Homo sapiens: one gene and its partners. The protein of the gene in region 1 interacts with the protein of each later gene in a biochemical or structural test. Each region holds a gene or a part of one and is shown in the gene's direction. Other genes may lie near its edges.

Region 1 (3,601 bases):
AGGGGGTGCTGAACCTAGTACGACAAACTGGATAGTTTAAAATAATAAATGTATTCTCTCATAGTTCTGGACGCTAGAAGTTTGAAAGTGAGGTGTAGGCAGGCCACGCTCCCTCTGAAGGCTCTAGGGAAGAATCCTTCCTAGGCACTCTCCCAGCTTCTGGTGGCTTCTGGCAACCCTTGGTGTTCCTTGGCTTGTAGATGCGTCACTCCAGTCTTTGCCTCCACTGTCACATGGCATTCTTCCTGTGTGTGTGTCAAAATCTCACTATCCTTATAAGGACACCTGTAATTGCACTTAGGGCACACCCTAATGTCCAGTATGACTTCATCTTAACTAATTACATCTGCAAAGACCCTATTTCCAAATAAGCTCACATTCACAGGAACCTAGGGTCAGAACTTCAGCGTATCTTTTGGCGGGGGATACAGTTCAACCACTGCAAAGTCTAATAATGCTCTTCCTACTAACTGCATAGCTAGTTCACTTGTAGTTGGCATCATGGAGAACTAAGGGAAGTTAAAGCTTGTGAAATTTAACTCTTCCACTTAAAATAATTGATGCTTCCATCCTTGATGACCAGAGTTTCCTGTGAGGTAGGTCAGAGTACAACTTCCTGCTGAGTAGCTGTGCTTCCTTTCACTAGGAGCTGGGGGTACTTTCATGTCACTTATGAATTGTTCTTCATTTTGGTTTGGGAGAGGGCTGGGAGTATCAGTTAGGGTTCCATGTGTAGCCACACAGGGCGAAGCTCTGGCCACTGGATCTGTGTGATGTTCCATCTGATCTGTGAAGCCCCACCATCTGTTAATGTGTATTTGAGGAGTGGTTGGTTCTTTCCAGAGTATAAAGCTGGAAGCAGAGTCTGGAACACTTCCAGTCTGTTGTCTTTGAACATTTGACAAAGGGACCGTACGATCTTACTGTTCAGAGTATCTTTTTTTTTTTTTTTTTTTTCTTTTGAGACGGAGGCTTGCTCTGTCGCTAGCTAGGCTGGAGTGCAGTGGCACGATCTGGGCTCACTGCAACCTCCGGGTTCAAGAGTTTCTCTTGCCTCAGCCTCCCAAGTAGCTGGGACTACAAGCGCGTGCCACCACGCCCAGCTAATTTTTGTATTTTTAGTAGAGATGGGGTTTCACCATGTTGGCCAGAATGGTCTCGATCTCTTGACCTCATGATCTGCCCGCCCTTGGCCTCCTGAAGTGCTGGGATTACAGGCATAAGCCATCGCGCCCGGCCTGTTCAGAGTATCTTTTGCAGAATGGCTGAAGCTCGAGGTTTTCTTCTTCACCATTATGTACTGCTGCTGTACAACCTTTTCATAATTATCCTTAGTCCCATTCCTCTACCAAGGTGAAAGCAACATCTTATCAGACCCGAATTATGAATTTCTCAAGCCCCTATGATTTTCTGTTTTGGGTGCCAAGTATTTATCTCTTCTGTTAGACTATAGTCTTTCTTCACATAGGGTTCATGTCTATATTGGTTTTATCCATGGGTGGTTTTTATTCTCCAGAGTGACTGACCTGTTCGTAATTCCGTTCTTGAGAAGGATTGTTGATTATGTTGAAGGGAAGGCTTCTTACCAAGATTTTCAGATTTTGCTTTCAATGTTTATCTTTTTGGGGTTTTGCAGGTGACAGAGCTGAATGAACCTCTCTCCAATGAAGATCGAAATCTCCTCTCTGTGGCCTACAAGAATGTGGTTGGTGCCAGGCGATCTTCCTGGAGGGTCATTAGCAGCATTGAGCAGAAAACCATGGCTGATGGAAACGAAAAGAAATTGGAGAAAGTTAAAGCTTACCGGGAGAAGATTGAGAAGGAGCTGGAGACAGTTTGCAATGATGTCCTGTCTCTGCTTGACAAGTTCCTGATCAAGAACTGCAATGATTTCCAGTATGAGAGCAAGGTGTTTTACCTGAAAATGAAGGGTGATTACTACCGCTACTTAGCAGAGGTCGCTTCTGGGGAGAAGAAAAACAGTGTGGTCGAAGCTTCTGAAGCTGCCTACAAGGAAGCCTTTGAAATCAGCAAAGAGCAGATGCAACCCACGCATCCCATCCGGCTGGGCCTGGCCCTCAACTTCTCCGTGTTCTACTATGAGATCCAGAATGCACCTGAGCAAGCCTGCCTCTTAGCCAAACAAGCCTTCGATGATGCCATAGCTGAGCTGGACACACTAAACGAGGATTCCTATAAGGACTCCACGCTGATCATGCAGTTGCTGCGAGACAACCTCACCCTCTGGACGAGCGACCAGCAGGATGAAGAAGCAGGAGAAGGCAACTGAAGATCCTTCAGGTCCCCTGGCCCTTCCTTCACCCACCACCCCCATCATCACCGATTCTTCCTTGCCACAATCACTAAATATCTAGTGCTAAACCTATCTGTATTGGCAGCACAGCTACTCAGATCTGCACTCCTGTCTCTTGGGAAGCAGTTTCAGATAAATCATGGGCATTGCTGGACTGATGGTTGCTTTGAGCCCACAGGAGCTCCCTTTTTGAATTGTGTGGAGAAGTGTGTTCTGATGAGGCATTTTACTATGCCTGTTGATCTATGGGAAATCTAGGCGAAAGTAATGGGGAAGATTAGAAAGAATTAGCCAACCAGGCTACAGTTGATATTTAAAAGATCCATTTAAAACAAGCTGATAGTGTTTCGTTAAGCAGTACATCTTGTGCATGCAAAAATGAATTCACCCCTCCCACCTCTTTCTTCAATTAATGGAAAACTGTTAAGGGAAGCTGATACAGAGAGACAACTTGCTCCTTTCCATCAGCTTTATAATAAACTGTTTAACGTGAGGTTTCAGTAGCTCCTTGGTTTTGCCTCTTTAAATTATGACGTGCACAAACCTTCTTTTCAATGCAATGCATCTGAAAGTTTTGATACTTGTAACTTTTTTTTTTTTTTGGTTGCAATTGTTTAAGAATCATGGATTTATTTTTTGTAACTCTTTGGCTATTGTCCTTGTGTATCCTGACAGCGCCATGTGTGTCAGCCCATGTCAATCAAGATGGGTGATTATGAAATGCCAGACTTCTAAAATAAATGTTTTGGAATTCAATGGGTAAATAAATGCTGCTTTGGGGATATTATCTCTGTTTGGTCTTGATTTTTCCCCCCTCGAGGAACTGTTTAACCAGTCACAAATTGTGGTTTGAATCTCTCAAACATGGAAGCATTTGTAGTACATTATCCAAGTTTTCCTCCCCTCTCATTACATTACATATTTTGCAGCACACACATAGGATTCATAGATTTTAAATAGTTTTCTGTGAACCCAGCTAACATAGCCTCTCTGATCAATTTTCCTGATAACTGGTGCTTTTTAATGAGCCTCGCAGAACAAAATGCAGTCTTCCACAGTATAGCACCTCTGAAACATTGTGGGCTCTGTTGAACTTGAGAGTGTATTTAACACTGAAGGTAAATACGGAGCTTATACACGTCCTCAAGTTTTCTTAATGTAATAAGATACTAGGGGCACAACTTGCACCCCTGAAATCTTTAGTGATTATTGTTAAGCATTTAGTATTCTTTAAAATAGAAAAGCAAACCTCATTGAGTTAAAAAGCCTAACCTACCCCTTAAACAC
Region 2 (7,364 bases), on another chromosome or scaffold:
AACACAAAATTCAATTCCTCGGCTGAACTAGCCACATTTCAACTGCTCAGTAGATACGTGTGGTTAGTGGCTGCCATACTGGACAGCTCGGGGCATTTTCACTGTCAAAGAAAGTTCTATTAGACAGCCCTGCTTGAGCCCTGTTTCTTCCTGGCCTTCGGTTTCCCTGGGGAACTTATCGACAATGCAAGCTCCTGGGCCCACCCCCAGACCTCCTGAACCAAAAGCTCCAGGGCTGGCCGTATGATCTGTGTGGATGGCAAACTCCCCAGGCCATTCTGGGACCTAAGTTTAAGAAGTGCCGTCCTCGAACTTTCTGACTCTAAGCTCCTGAGCGGGAGTCAGACTTAGCCCTGAGCCTGCACTTCCTGTTCAGGTGCAGACACTGAACAGGGTCTCAAACACCTTCAGCATGTGTGTTGTGTGCTCACGTGCCACACAGTGTCTCATGCACACAACCCAGTGTACACACCACCTACGTGCACACAGCATCCTTCCACACTGTGTATGTGAACAGCTTGGGCCCTGCAAACACAACCATCTACACACATCTACACCCCCAAGCACACACACATGGTCCGTGCCATGTCACCTCCATAGGGAAAGGCTTCTCTCCAAGTGTGCCAGGCCAGGACAGCCCTCCCAGCCATGAATCCTTACTCAGCTACCTCGGGTTGGGGTGGGAGCCCCAGCCAAATCCTGGGCTCCCTGCCTGTGGCTCAGCCCCAGCTCCCAAGGCCTGCCTGGCTCTGTCTGAACAGAAGGTCTGGGGGAAGCGACGGGTGGAGTACAATAAAGGGAATGAGGACAAACCTCTGCCGTCCGTGCTCTCTTTCCAGACCTCTCTGAAACACAGTGTGCTCGTCTGTGAAATGTGGGGCTGAGCTGGGCAATCTCTGAGATCCCTCTGGATCTGCCGGTGGGGACCAGTGAGCCGACTCATACGCCCTGAGCCCAGCAGGGTCAGTGCTGGGTGGAGAGGTCAGCTCACCTCTGTCCACGGGTTGCCATCTTGGCACAGCCCTGAACATTGGCGCTCTTCCCAACCCTCCATGGCTGGGAGAGGCCTGGCAGTGGCACAAGTAGAGAACCCCAGGAGTGGCCTCGTGAAACAGTGGGGAGGAAGGGGCTGGCTGTGCCAGGAGGGAGATCTGGCGGAATCCCAAAGAGGGGAGGAGGGACTTGACTGAGGCTGTGTGGAGGGCCCTGCTGTGGGCATGACCTCAGGCCTGGATTTACAGCCAGGTAGGATCTCTGGGCAGCATCCCCCACCCAGTCACCATGCTCTGTCTAGACCAGTGCCGTCCCATAGAACCTTCTGGAATGATGGAAATATTCTCTATCTATGCTGTCCAATAGGGTACCCAGAAGCCACAGGTGGCCTCGGTGGAAATATGCAGCCAAGGAAATGAAATTCGTATTTTATTTACTTTTAATTAATTAATCAATATTTTTTTTTTGAGACGGAATTTTGCTCTGTCGCCCAGGCTGGAGTGCAGTGGCACGATCTCGGCTCACTGCAGCCTCCAGCCCCTGAGCTCAAGCAATTCTCCTGCCTCAGCCTCCCAAGTAGCTAGGATTACAGGTGCCCACCACCACGCCTTGCTAATTTTTTTTTGTATTTTTAGTAGAGATGGGGTTTCACCATGTTGGTTGGCCAGGCTGGTCTCAAACTCCTGACCTCAGGTGATCCGCCTGCCTCGGCCTTCCAAAGTGCTGGGATTACAGGCGGGAGCCACCATGACTGCCCAATTTACTTTTAATTAATTTAAATAGTTACATGTGACTAGTGGCTACCAGACTGGACAACACAGGCCAGCCCCTGCCATCTCCCTCAGGGCCTTGGCCTTCTGCCCTCTTCCCCAACCAAGACCTATCATTTAGATTTTATAAGACTGGAACTTCCTCTTCTGCCCCCCCTTCTTTCTCCAGACACACCTGCTTTTGCACTTTCTGCCCCCTTCCCTTCCAAGTGAGCAGAAAAGGGTCCCTCCTCTGTATTCAGCCTCACCACCCAGCCCAGAGGCTGCCCAGCAGAAGCCACCTCCATTCTCCTACCCCTACATCTGTCCCCCTCTTCTGCCTCCTCCTGGCCCAGGTTCCCCAGCAGCTCTGCCCCTCTCCCCTCACTGCAACCCTTCCAGAAAGACCAGTCCACACTTCCCTCTGCAATTGGCCTCCACCCCAACCACTTCTCCTAGGTGCCCTTGCCAAGGTCACTGGCAGTGTCCTGGTTGCCAAGTCTTAAGCAGACACTTGGGCCCCATATCCTGCTTGGCCTGACAGCTTCTCACATTGTTGTCCAAGCCTTCCTTGTCGAAAGATTTCCTTCCAGCAGCTCCTAGGACACACCCTTTCCTGACTTCCCAGCCTGTCTGGCGTGCAAGGAAAAGACAGGTTTCAATTGCAGCTCTGCCACAGTTCACTGTGTGTCCTTGGGGGAAGTGGCTTAACTCTCCAAGCCTCCTCTGTGAGTCAAGGATAATAACAACTTCTTTTTTTTTTTTTTTTTAAATAGAGACAGAGTTTCACTATGTGGACCAGGCTGTTCTCAAACTCCTGGGCTCAAATGATACGCTCCACCTCAGCCTTCCAAAGGGCTGGGATTACCGGCATGAGCTACTGCACCCGGACAATAATAGCTTTTAGTAGGGTTGAGGAAAGACCTGTAAACAGCACCTGGCATACAGTCGAGCTCTGCCCCTCAATCTATCCACCCTCTCAATGGTGGAGTCCACTAGTTGTTCCGGATATCTGTTCTCCCGGTAGCAATTCAGTCCTTGGTTCTTGGTTGGGCATGTGGCTGCCCAGAATGGAAGCTGCATTTCCCAGCTTTCTCTTGCAGCTGGGTCTGGTCATGTTAAGTAAGCTCAAGCGGTGTATGTGAAAGTGCCACGTGGCAACTTCTGGGAACTTTCCTGAAAAGAGAGCTGGTGCAGACCCTCTGCCCTCTTCTTCATCCTTTTCTCCACTCCACTGCCTGGAATGCGTTATGTGATTGCTGGAGCTCTAGCTGGTATCCTGAACCATGAGGTCAAAAGCCACACTCAAGTTGCTGGAATTATTCATTCAACAACATCCACTGAGCACCTGTGCCATGCGACAGGCTGTGTGCTGGACGAATCAGGCACAGTGCTTGCCATCCAGGAGCTCCCAGTCCCAATGAGGAACCAGCAGGTAAACAGATGCCAGGTACAAGGAAGTACCTGGGTGGGGCCACTAACCCATGCTGGAAGTGGGGAGGTCATGGAGAAGGTTTCCAGGCAGAAGTAGGATTGAATTGAACCCTGAAAGACGAGTAGGCGTTAAACAGGCAGGTGGCTGGGAGTAAGGCTATACAGGGCTTGATTAGACCTATTCTCACGGTGAGCCATAGAAAATGCCTCTCGGTGGACTTGTGTTCCTGAAAACTTGCTCTGGGTGCCAGGGAGAGAAAGGCTAGTAGGAGGTGAGACTGGATGGGGCTGGAGGCCAGGGAGGAGGCTGCTGCAGCAATCAGGGACAAGATGGTGGTAGCCTGAGCTAAGGGAGGGGAAGTGGGGTGGAGAGGAGTGGGCCGATTCCAGGGATAGTTAAGAGGCAGTATGGCAGGGCCTGGAGATGGACTGGTTGGAGCAGGAAACAGGGAGGCAGCAGGTGACTCCCAGGCTCCTGGCTCCACTTCGAGACAGGGACGCAGGAGGTTAGATTTGGGGGAAGGATATGGGGCAAGTGGTGGTGCCAGAGGATTCACACGCGGAGGCGTTAGGGGAAGAGGTGGCGGCAGAGTCCCCAGGAACAGCCACAGCGAAGGTCACCTCACTGTCCTGCTGAGTTCCCTCTACTCCCTCGGCCCTCGCTAGGCCATTCCTGTCGCCGGCTCACCGAGCAAGCACTTCACTCTGTGCTAAGCCACCTCTCGGCCTCTCTGCCCCCGCCCCGCAGAAGCTACACTCCTGGGCCTGCCATTCAAGGCCTTCCTCCCCGGGCCTCGCCCCTCCCTCGCACGCACCGCGCCTCGCCCGGGAGGGAGGGGCGCTCTGGCTCCTGCAGGCCGGGATGGGGGCGCAAAGGGTTTGGCGGGGAAGCACGGTCCCCTGCAGGCCCAGGAGAAGGGCCCACGCCGCGGCCGGGAGGGACTTCGGGGACCCCAGGACGCCGGGGGCGTGGCGAGGTCGGCCCCGCCGCAGGGGAGGGAGGGCCCCTACCGCGCCGCCCACCGCGGTCCCTTAGTCCAGGAGGGGGCGGGAGTCCCGGGCTCCGATTGGGCGGCGCTGGCGGGGCCGTTCGCTCCGACCAATGAGCGCCGGCCGGGCGCGGCGGTGGGCGGGGCAGCGAGCGCTGCCCGGAGCCGCGGCGCCCGCGGGCTGAGCTCGGCGATCTGGGCCCCAGCGAGGCGGTGGGGCGGGGCGGGGCGGGGCGGGGCGCGCAGCAGGAGCGAGTGGGGCCGCCCGCCGGGCCGCGGACACTGTCGCCCGGCGCCCAGGTAGGGATCGGCGGGGCGGGGACGCGGGCGAGGAGCAGGAGGACGAACGCCTTAACACCTGCCCCGAGCCTGCAAGGGAGAGGCGGGGGGGGTCTGCCAGGCCGCGTCTACGAGGGAGCTGGGATCTGGTCAGGGCGGGGATCCTTCCCCTTCTGTCTGCGGGGCCGGGTCTGCGGGGTGCCTCGCGGAGTCTGCTCGGGTCTGCGCCGGCCGCCGGGACCGCATCGCCGCGGGTGCCCCGCCGTCTGCGTTCTTCCCCGCTTCTGTCTGCGGACCGCATCCATCCCCGGTGCACTGTCCCCCGCGCCCGGCTCCTGGTGGAGGCCACGTCTGTGCGGAGTGGGCCCGGCCCGGGGCACCCACGTGCGGTTCTCCGCGGAGCGCTCCTCCCACGGCCCGCCGGAGCGTCTTCCTGCAGGAGCCGGGGGCGGGGTGGGAGATGAATGGGGCGGCGGCGGCGCGCGGCTCAGGCTGCGCAGGGTCCTGCCTTGGCTGGGGCGAGAGGGGGCGGCAGAGGCGGGCGCTGCGGCTTCGGGGCCCGGGAGGCGCAGGGCTGGTGGCTGGGGGGGTGTCCACGTGCGCAGGGACCTGCGTGTGCTGTTTGGAGGCGGGTGTGCGTGTGTCACGTGGACGCGGGAGTGTGCCTGTGTCTGCGTGGGGGGTGCAGGACAGGATGGAGTGGTGTGTGAGGGCGGGTCACGCGGACACGGGCGTGTGCCTGTCAGGGGAGGGGGTGTGCTCAAGTCTTGGCGTTGCAGGGCTGTGCAGAGAAGGCTGTGTCACAGGCCACAGGACCGGGCCTTGGTGGTGTCCGCAGGGCGGGCACAGGAGTGTGGGAGGGGCACACAGCCTGTGCGCGCTGGAGGATCCCAGGGAAGTGGCGCTGGCCTCCCCAAGCCCTGCCCTCTTTCCTCCAGTACATACAAATTGACCCCCCACTGCGTCCCAGGCGCACACACTCTGGGGACCCTTCGCCTCTTCCTCGGTCTCCCACCGTCAGTCCTCACAGCAGCCATGGGAGTCGTTTTAAACCTCACCTAACCGAGGCACTCCCCTGCTCACAACCTCCCCCTGGCTTTGGGGGCCTCCTGGGCTCTGTCCACCAAGCTCTCCCCACCCCCAAACCAAGCCCGGAGTCCCAGCCAGGAAATGACTCTCCTATATGCACAGTGCAAACTTCCATCCTCGCCTCATCCTGAAATCCTGCTCAGTGCTCAGAAGAGAGCTCAGGTGCCACCTCCTCTAGGAAGCCATCCCTGAGGCCAGCACAATGAGTGAGGGGGCTTTCTCTCCAGATGTAACTCCTCTTGCTATCAGGTGCCTCTTATGTGGGGAAGACTCCACTCCAGCCACGTCAGCCTCCCTGCTGTTCTTCATACTGAGCAAGCACTGTCCCCTCATGGCGTTTGCACCTGCTGGTCCCTGCACCTGAAATGCTCTTCCCCAGATAACTACACTGCCTACTGCCCCTTCCTTCCTTCAGGTGTCTGCTCCAGTCCTGCTCCCAAAAGGCCTTCCTCAACTACACTGTATCAGCAGCATCTCCCAGCCCCTTTCTCTTGATCCTTCTTACTCGGCTGTATTTTTCTTCCTATATGTACCACTTGACATATCATATCTGAATCACTGGCTTTCTTGTTTGTTGCTTCTTGCCCCCACGAGAAATTAAACTGTATGAGAGCAGAGACTTGGTCTTTTTGGTTCACTGCTGTATCTCCCCACACAGGCTTGCACAGAGTCTGGCAGACAGCAGGTGCTCCGTGACTATTTGTGCTTGCATCCCAGGCGTCCATGTCCCTGGCTGCTCCCTAGCCTGTGACCCCCCCCCCAACCTTGCCCCCAGTCTGAGGCCACTTCTGCTCCTCTATCCATGACATTCCGAGTTCCTGGAAGGCCAGGTCTGGGAGAACTATAACCACATTTGCATGTTGGAAATCCCTCCAGCAGCTGGTGTGGAGGATGGGGTAGGGTGGGGTGGAGGTGTTAGCCTGGAGTCAGGGAAGACCCACATAGTGGGAAACGAAGCAGTGGGTAGAATCTGGACTTCTAAGGGGTTTGACTTGGTGAGCTCACCCAGCAGGTAGTGGGGAGATCAAGGAGGGCTCAGAAGAGGCGATGTCTGAGCTGTCCTCCAGGCAGCAGAGGAGAGGGAGGTGTGTTCCTGGCAGAAGGCACAGCTTGTACTGAGGCCTGGCAGCAGAACAGAGTATGCAATTTGGGAAGCTGTGGTGTGGCTGCAGTGGAGAGTAAGTGTGGGGTTGTGGGGAGCAAGGGTGGGCAACAGGGAAAGGACGAGTGACAAGGAGGGCTCCCGGATTGCTGACCTGGGTCAGGAAAGAATGGGGAGGGTGTGGTACCCGTCTCGCAATGGAGACAGAGGAGGACGAGCAGGTTTGGGGAAGATGCTGAGTTGAATCTGGGGCCTGTTGGATCTGAGCTGCTCGGGAACATGGACGGGGAGGTGGCAGCTAGCTGGAAAGAGTGGGGCTGGAGGCACAGACCTGGTGTGGAGGATGAGGAGGGGCAGAGGATGAGGCCTGGAGACCATCAGCCTCCGTGGGTGGGCCAGGACGATGCGCTGGGGGTAGCTGTGCTGAGTCAGGCAACAGCCCGTATTGGTGCTTGGGGGCTCCCCAGGGATGGTGGGAGCGGGCGTCCTCACAGCAGGAGTCGTCAAGCATGACTTGGCACCAGACGCCTGGGCCTCCCTCAAGGGGACTGAGTCATCCCGGGTGGGGGCGGGAGCTGCGGAGGGCACCCGTTGCCAGGGCCATCCAGATACTCGCCAGGATCATAAACACAGCTCCAGTGAGGCGGCCCAGGCATGGGAGGACCACCTTCTGTGTCTGGCCTGGGTGGCCGCCACCTCTGCGGCTTTCCCTTCTGTTCGGTCCTCTGC
Region 3 (7,032 bases), on another chromosome or scaffold:
ATGGAAAGGGACTTATGATGAGATGAGATAAATATATATTTTTTTTTTTTTTTGGAGATGGAGTTTTGCTCTCGTCGCACAGGCTGGAGTGCCATGGTGCGATCGTGGCTCACCGCAAATTCTGCCTCCCGGGTTCAAGCGATTCTCCTCCCTCAGCCTCCCGAGTAGCTGGGATTATAGGCGTGCACCACCACGCGCAGCTGATTTTTATATTTTTAGTAGAGACGGGTTGTCACCATGTTGGCCGGGATGGTTTCGAACTCCTGACCTCAGGTGATCTGCCCGCCTCAGCCTCCCAAAGTGCTGGGATGACAGGCATGAGCCACCGTGCCCGGCTACCAGGTTTGGGTTTCTTTGGTCAGAATCACGTTTTCACCCTGGCAGTGACTTGTCTTGATTGTTACTTAAGGTTTTAGATGCCACAAAGCGGTTAGGCTGTGAGGAAATGGAAGGATACGGACCTCTTAAAGCACACCCGTTCTTCGAGTCCGTCACGTGGGAGAACCTGCACCAGCAGACGCCTCCGAAGCTCACCGCTTACCTGCCGGCTATGTCGGAAGACGACGAGGACTGCTATGGCAATGTAAGCTGGCCGGGATGGCGGGCGAGGCAGGTGGCACTGGGTCCTCCGTGCACTGGGCTTCATGCCCGTGCGCCAGACCCACGTGTGATTTGTAGCCGAAAGGGGAGGGTGTCTGTGCCACTGCGGCAGGCCTGCTGGTGGTTGTAGTCTTTGCTGCCGTGAGGCAGTGGCGGGTGAGGTGCTGGGTGGGTCATTTTCTCCTCATTTCCGTGGCCGTGGACAGGCTAGTGAGTTTCCACCCACAGGGTGCCGCTAGAACCGGACGCCGAGCACCCCCGGCACTGGCCCCGGGGTCCCACGTACGGGGCCTCCTGCCCGGCCTGTCGCATCTGCGCTTGGCTTGGTGCTTGTACAACTGTGCGGCCAAGATGCTCCAGAACACTGCCTGTCTTTCCACAGAAACCCCCGAGTGTTGTGTGCTTGAACTTTTGGGACGTGGCGTTGGTGGGGACACTGGTACCTTCTTCAGTGCTGAGTAGGCTCTGAGGCTGCTGGTCTCCCAGCTTGACCACAGCCATGGGGTCTTCAGCACGCTTGGCTCTTTAAGCTTCTCGTAGAGAGCGTGGACCATGTGCCCAAGGGACCGAGGGTGTTGTGAGAGGCAGGCATGTCGCCCACTTCAGCCTTGTTTCCTCTGAGTTCCTCTTGCCACCTCCCCCGTGACCCCCTCGTACTTAAGTGCTGTTATCATGAGATCCATTTTTCTGGTTTGACTTCTGTCGCCATGGCTTATTCTAACTGGCACCGTGTACGGAGTTCCACTTTCCATGACTGAGGAAGTCCAGATTTTGTTTGTTTTGAGACAGGGTCTTGGTGTGTCACTCAGGCTGGAGTGTAGTGGCGCGATCTCGGCTCACTGCAACCTCTGCCGCTGTGGGTTCAAGCGATTCTCCTGTCTCGCCCTCCCGACTAGCGGGAACTGCAGGTGTGCACCACCATGCCCGGCTAATTTTTGTATTTTTAGTAGAGACAGGGTTTCGCCGTGTTGGCCAGGCTGGTGTGGAACTCCTGACCTCAAGTGATCTACCCGCCTCGGCCTCCCAAACTGCTGGGGTTTTAGGCATGAGTTACTGCACCCAGCTGGGAATTCTAGATTTTATCTAAAAGTCATCCACAGCTAAATTTCTGCTAGTGTCAAAGTTTCCCAACGCCCCTACCTGCTGTGTAACGCCCCTCATCCTCCCGACATCCTTTGAGCCCAAACTCTAAGGGAGCCAGGCTTGGGGAGCGGAGTCTGTGCCGCTTGATGTGGCCACCTGCAGCTTTCATGTATGCAGAGGCCTGGGAGCCTCGAGGCCCTTGCCCCCACCCTGTGTGCCACTCAGCTGCTCCTGCGTGGTGTTTGGTTACGGCTGGCAGGTGCCACGGGGCTGCAGTGCTCTCCCTGCTGGGCCTGCTGTTGCTGCAGAGGTTTTGCTCGCGACTGGCTGGTGGCCGTTCTCCCGTGGGCTCTGTGCTCCATTGCTCCCAGGGAGGTAGCTGGGCTCTGAAGGAGCAGCACAGGCTTCAGTTGTCTCCAGTCTCAATGCCTGGGGAGCTTCTCTGAGTGTGGGGGTGTGTGTGCTTGCACTTGCCGCATACCTGTGCAGGCCCCTGTGCCTGGGCCTACTGAGAGCTGGGGCTGCTTGATACGTGGCTTCTGTTGCCGTCTGTGAAGCCAGGCTCCATTTGTTGGCAGCCGCCTGTTAGATGGCCCATCCTTAGCTCTGCACAGCTGTGTGGTTTGAAAGCCTTGGAGTGGGTCCAGGCAGGGAGCTCCCAGGCCAGACCTCACACGGGGACAGTGAGTGAGTCTTGGCAAACGGTGTCAAGCATGGAAGGAGACTTCAGGGCTGTACCTCCTCCCTCCCTGCAGGGCCGCACCCCCTCCTTCATGGGGAATGGGCACTGGGCGTCCCCTTCAGCCAGGGAGGTTGGCCATGGTACCTGCCCTTGGGCCAAGGCAGGAGAGCAGGTGCTTCGTTGGCTCCTGCTCTCCTGAGGTCCTGTAAGTGCCGGGGCAGTGTGACCATTGGGCAGTGTTGGAGACAAGCAGGCTGGGCAGGCCCACACCCCGTGGAGGGGTCGGCGTGGAGGGGCCGGCGTGGAGGGGCCGGCAGCGTCGGGCGTTTCCACCATGCCCGTTGGCGAGCACCTTGCTCCAGCCCAGCTGGGTGCGAGGCTTTAGGGCTGTGAGGCGGGGCTGTGGTGCAGCTGTAGGAGTGTGAACACATGGGGGACGCTGCATGTGTGGATGGTTGCGTGGGGCAGCAGCCAGGGCCTGCGTCTGGAGGCACGGAGGACGTGGAAGGGCATGCCGCACTCTTATCCTAGCCATTGCTCGTGGCACCTTTTCTTTCCCCTTGTCCTTGGCCTCCACAGAGCTCAGATGTGGGGCCTGCAGCCGGGGAGGTGGCTTCCCTTGCCCAGGGACTCTCTGGCCTTGGCAGTGCCAGGAGCGTGTTAGTGCACAGGCTGTGTCCGCTTGGCACGTTTATGAGTGAGTTTCCGTTGTCGACACTAGCTTGTCTTTTTCCTAGAGTAACAGGCAGCGTTATCTACAGTAAGTTTAGTTTATCTTTGCTGGGATTAAGAGGAATGTCTTTTAAACAATTGAATGTGTTTAGTCAAATCAAAATATTTAGCATCTACCACAGACTCAGACTCCTAAGACACCTGGGGCCCAACAAGGTCTTGCACGGAGGCCCTGTCTGCCAGCCTGTGTGATGGATCTGCCACCAGGCCTCCTTGGGCCCCTTCTCTTCCCAGCAGGCATCCCAGCCCCCACCTCCGGGGGGCAGCACTGGCATTCACGGGGCCCGCAGGGTAAGGGCCCAGGTCCCCTCTTCCTGGAGAGGAAATCTGAGGCTTCGCCCCTCTCTGGCCCTGATTCCCATGGGAAGAGGAGCCCGACCAGGCAGGATCCAGTGAGGCCTCGGTTCTGTGGCCAGGTGTCCCATGGAGGAGAATCAGGGCTGCCCACCCTGTCGCCTTGCGCCTTGCTGTGTGCGAGCTCCCAAGGCCTGACAGCGGCAGTGCGGGAGGGGCTGGGGTTTTAGGACCTTAGAGGCAAGTGAAGGTGCGGTTCTCACTTTCCCTTCTTCTCTGCAGTATGACAATCTCCTGAGCCAGTTTGGCTGCATGCAGGTGTCTTCGTCCTCCTCCTCACACTCCCTGTCAGCCTCCGACACGGGCCTGCCCCAGAGGTCAGGCAGCAACATAGAGCAGTACATTCACGATCTGGACTCGAACTCCTTTGAACTGGACTTACAGTTTTCCGAAGATGAGAAGAGGTTGTTGTTGGAGAAGCAGGCTGGCGGAAACCCTTGGTAAGAACTTATGGACATAAGCAATGCTTTTTGCAGAATTGCAGCGTGAACACGTGGGGGCTTATGGTGGGTGCCTTTGCCTTGTCACTGCCTCCCTCAGCAGCCTTGGACGCTTGGCCAAGGAGCACATCGTAAGTGCACAGTTGGAAACAGGTGCTTAGGAGGCAGCCGGCCCAGGGGCTGAGTGGGTTGTGACCGCCGGGCGCTCCCCTCCTCTGCCGGGCATTTGGACCTGCTGGTTGTGGCCATGGAGTCACTGTGGTATGGACAGACGCGGCCTGGACCTGGCCACTTGGGAGTTTATGAGGTTTGCTGTTGTAGCCCCTCTTTTCCACATAGCTTTCCCCACTTGTCCATTTATGTCTTCTAAGGTGAGTGCCAGGGGCAGTGTGTGATGGAGGGCGTGCGTGTTTTCAGGGCTGGGGATCTGTCGCGGGGGCGCCAGGAATCTGCCTTTCCCAATGCTCTTGCCTGCCTGAGAGTGTTTTGATGCTCCAAAAACAAACTTGTGAATTTCTGTTTTATTCCTATTGAGGCAGATGTCTCCTGTGTTCATGACCATTTGTGTTTCTTTTTTGAGGTACTTTGTGTCCTTTGACTATTCTTTCTTGTATATTTTGCATCTTTTTTTTTGAGACAGAGTGTTGCTCTGTCACCCAGGCTGGAATGCAGTGGCGCGATCTCAGCTCACTGCAACCTCTGCCTCCTGGGTTCAAGCAATTCTCCTGCCTCAACCTCTCAAGTAGCCGGAATTACAGGCACCTGCCACCACACCTGGTTAATTTTTGTATTTTTTGATAGAGACAGGCTTTCCCTGTGTTGGCCAGGCTGGTGCCTCTTTTTAACATGGATTTTTAAAAGCCACGTGTATGGAGACTATTCCTTGTTGTATGTTTTGCAAACATTCTTCAGTTTCTCTCCAGTCTCGATACTGTGTTTTTGTATGGAAGCTGCAAATTCTTACCAAGTCCATCCTGTCCCTATTTATATTTTATGTTTTCCATTTTAATCTGGTAAGACGGGCTTCCCCCCTAATATTTTTACCTGCTTTTCCCTTTTGTGTGGGCAGAGAGGAGCCCAAGGGGGTGGGGAGAGGGCCTTGCAGGAAGGCATGCTGGAGTGGAAGCACAAGACGAGGGGGAGTTGAGGGCCTGGCTAGGCAGGGACAGGACACATGTGACTTGAGAGACTTGTGGGGAGGAATGAGAGGAAGGAGCTGAGCTCTGGGCCGCCCCGGCAGGTGGGGAAGACCACGGCTCTATGCGGTTCGCCACACCTGTCTCTAGAAAACCTGTGCAGAGATGCTGGCAGGCAGCAACAGTCTACAGCTAGGGGCTCTGAATCACACCTAGTGTGATTGCTAGAGATGTTAATGTGTACTGAGCAGGAGAGGAGGGCTCTTGATGGGAGCAATCTGAGCCGTGCTGTGCTGCGCAGCTCCAAGCAGCAAGGAGGCGTGTGCCTGGCTATGCAAGGAGCTTCCCGGGCTCGTGTGTGCTGGGGTCCCCACGAAGGGCTGCTGTGGCCACTCCAAGTACTTGGCCAGGAGCGCTCTCTCTGCAGATCCCAGCTGAGAGGTGCTGTCTGCAGGTGTGTGTGTGTTTCAGCTCCTTTGGTGACTCCCAGAAGAGGCCCCTCTGCCTGGGGCTGTTCTTAGAGGGCCTTGGGGTCCGTCTGGGTACCTTAGCCTGGTGATGGCGGCAAGTCAGGATACACATTCTCCTGCCTGCTTCCTTTGTCTTCAGGTTTCTCTTTCCCCTTCCCACTTCCTTCAGATTTTAGGTCCTTTTGGGAAGCTGATGACTCCTGAGATCTTGCAGGATCTGTCTGGCTGCTGGGAGGTCTGTCCAGCACCTGCTCTTTACAGTAGTGGTTTGCATTCTCAGTGTGTGGCCACCAAATCCCCGAGGTCAGGGCAGTTTTTTTTGTAATACTAAGATGTTATTTGCCTTTTTGCTGTCATTCTCTGTGCGTGTATGGTGAGTTTTTCAGTGGTCACATGCTGTAGAATGGAATCTGCGTGCTTTTGGTCTTTTCTAAGGTCATAGGTTTTTGGTATCAATATGTTTTGTTTTTTAAATGAGAGAGAGTCTTGCTCTGTCGCCCAGGCTGGAGTGCAGTGGCGTGATCTCTGCTCACACAACCTCCGCCTCCTGGGTTAAAGTGATTCTCCTGTCTCAGCCTCCTGAGTAGCTGGGATTACAGGCACATGCCACCACGTCCAGCTAATTTTTGTATTTTTAGTAGAGAAGGGGTTTCACCATGTTGGCCAGTCTGGTTTCGAACTCCTGACCTCGAGTGATCTGCCCACCTCGGCTTCTCAAAGTGCTGGGATTTCAGGTGTGAGCCACCGCGCCAGCCAATGTATGCATTTTTTGAGATTAATATTCAATATTTCTACTGAGCTCTTACTATCTCTTCATTTATACCTGCTATAGCCTCTGTAATTTTATCATCCACTGAATCATTATTTTGAAATCCTGAAGTTTTCCTTGTGCCTACATGAGAATACGGTAAGTTAAGTTCAGGATCACACCTGTAATCCCAGCACTTTGGAGGCCAAGGTGGGTGGATCACTTGAGCCAGGAATTCGAGAGCAGCCTGGGCAAGAAACTGAAACCCTGTCTCTACAAAAAATACAAAAATCAACCAGGCATGGTGCTGCACACCTGTAGTCCTAGCTGCTTGGGGAGGTTGAGGTAGGAGGATTACCTGAGCCTTGGAAGTTGAAGCTGCAGTGAGCAGAGAGCTTGCCACTGCCCCCCAGCCTGGGTGACAGAGTGAGACCCTGTCTCAAAATTGGAAAAAAAAAAAAAAAAAAGGTAAAAGGAATTTTTAAATTTACATGGAATAGTTTACACTTAAAAGGAACATTTCAAAAATATGTGTGATGAGCTCTTTAAAATCCAATGTTGTTTGTAACAGCTTTTCAGACAATAAATTAAAGAGTCACTGAAGCTCTTAGAAGCTGCATTGTAGAGGCTGGAGAGGCCACACGGTAGCTGAGAGACAAAGCCTCCGGCTGCAGCACAGCCTCAGGCTTGGTCATCCTGTGCTGCCACAGTCCACAATGCAGTCGAAACTTGCTGGATTCAAGATACGACTGCAGGCACGAAGAGGGAGTTGACATGTCTGCTGCTG

The links. The genes of interacting proteins can lie anywhere in the genome.
Region 2: the proteins of YWHAH (region 1) and CAMKK1 form a complex in vitro, tested with the Homo sapiens proteins (one study listed by IntAct).
Region 3: the proteins of YWHAH (region 1) and PDPK1 form a complex in vitro, tested with the Homo sapiens proteins (one study listed by BioGRID).

The regions. Positions count from the first base shown.
Region 1 is NC_000022.11:31,954,503-31,958,103, forward strand, and holds the end of YWHAH (14-3-3 protein eta), read left to right. Parts: intron 1-1,636; coding exon 1,637-2,290; 3' UTR 2,291-3,101; downstream 3,102-3,601. UniProt on the Homo sapiens protein: Adapter protein implicated in the regulation of a large spectrum of both general and specialized signaling pathways. Binds to a large number of partners, usually by recognition of a phosphoserine or phosphothreonine motif.
Region 2 is NC_000017.11:3,890,040-3,897,403, reverse strand, and holds the start of CAMKK1 (calcium/calmodulin-dependent protein kinase kinase 1), read left to right. Parts: upstream 1-4,350; 5' UTR 4,351-4,465; intron 4,466-6,660; exon of another isoform or gene 6,661-6,673; coding exon of another isoform or gene 6,674-6,711; intron 6,712-7,364. UniProt on the Homo sapiens protein: Calcium/calmodulin-dependent protein kinase that belongs to a proposed calcium-triggered signaling cascade involved in a number of cellular processes. Phosphorylates CAMK1, CAMK1D, CAMK1G and CAMK4. Involved in regulating cell apoptosis.
Region 3 is NC_000016.10:2,583,003-2,590,034, forward strand, and holds part of PDPK1 (3-phosphoinositide-dependent protein kinase 1), read left to right. Parts: intron 1-409; coding exon 410-583; intron 584-3,673; coding exon 3,674-3,891; intron 3,892-7,032. UniProt on the Homo sapiens protein: Serine/threonine kinase which acts as a master kinase, phosphorylating and activating a subgroup of the AGC family of protein kinases.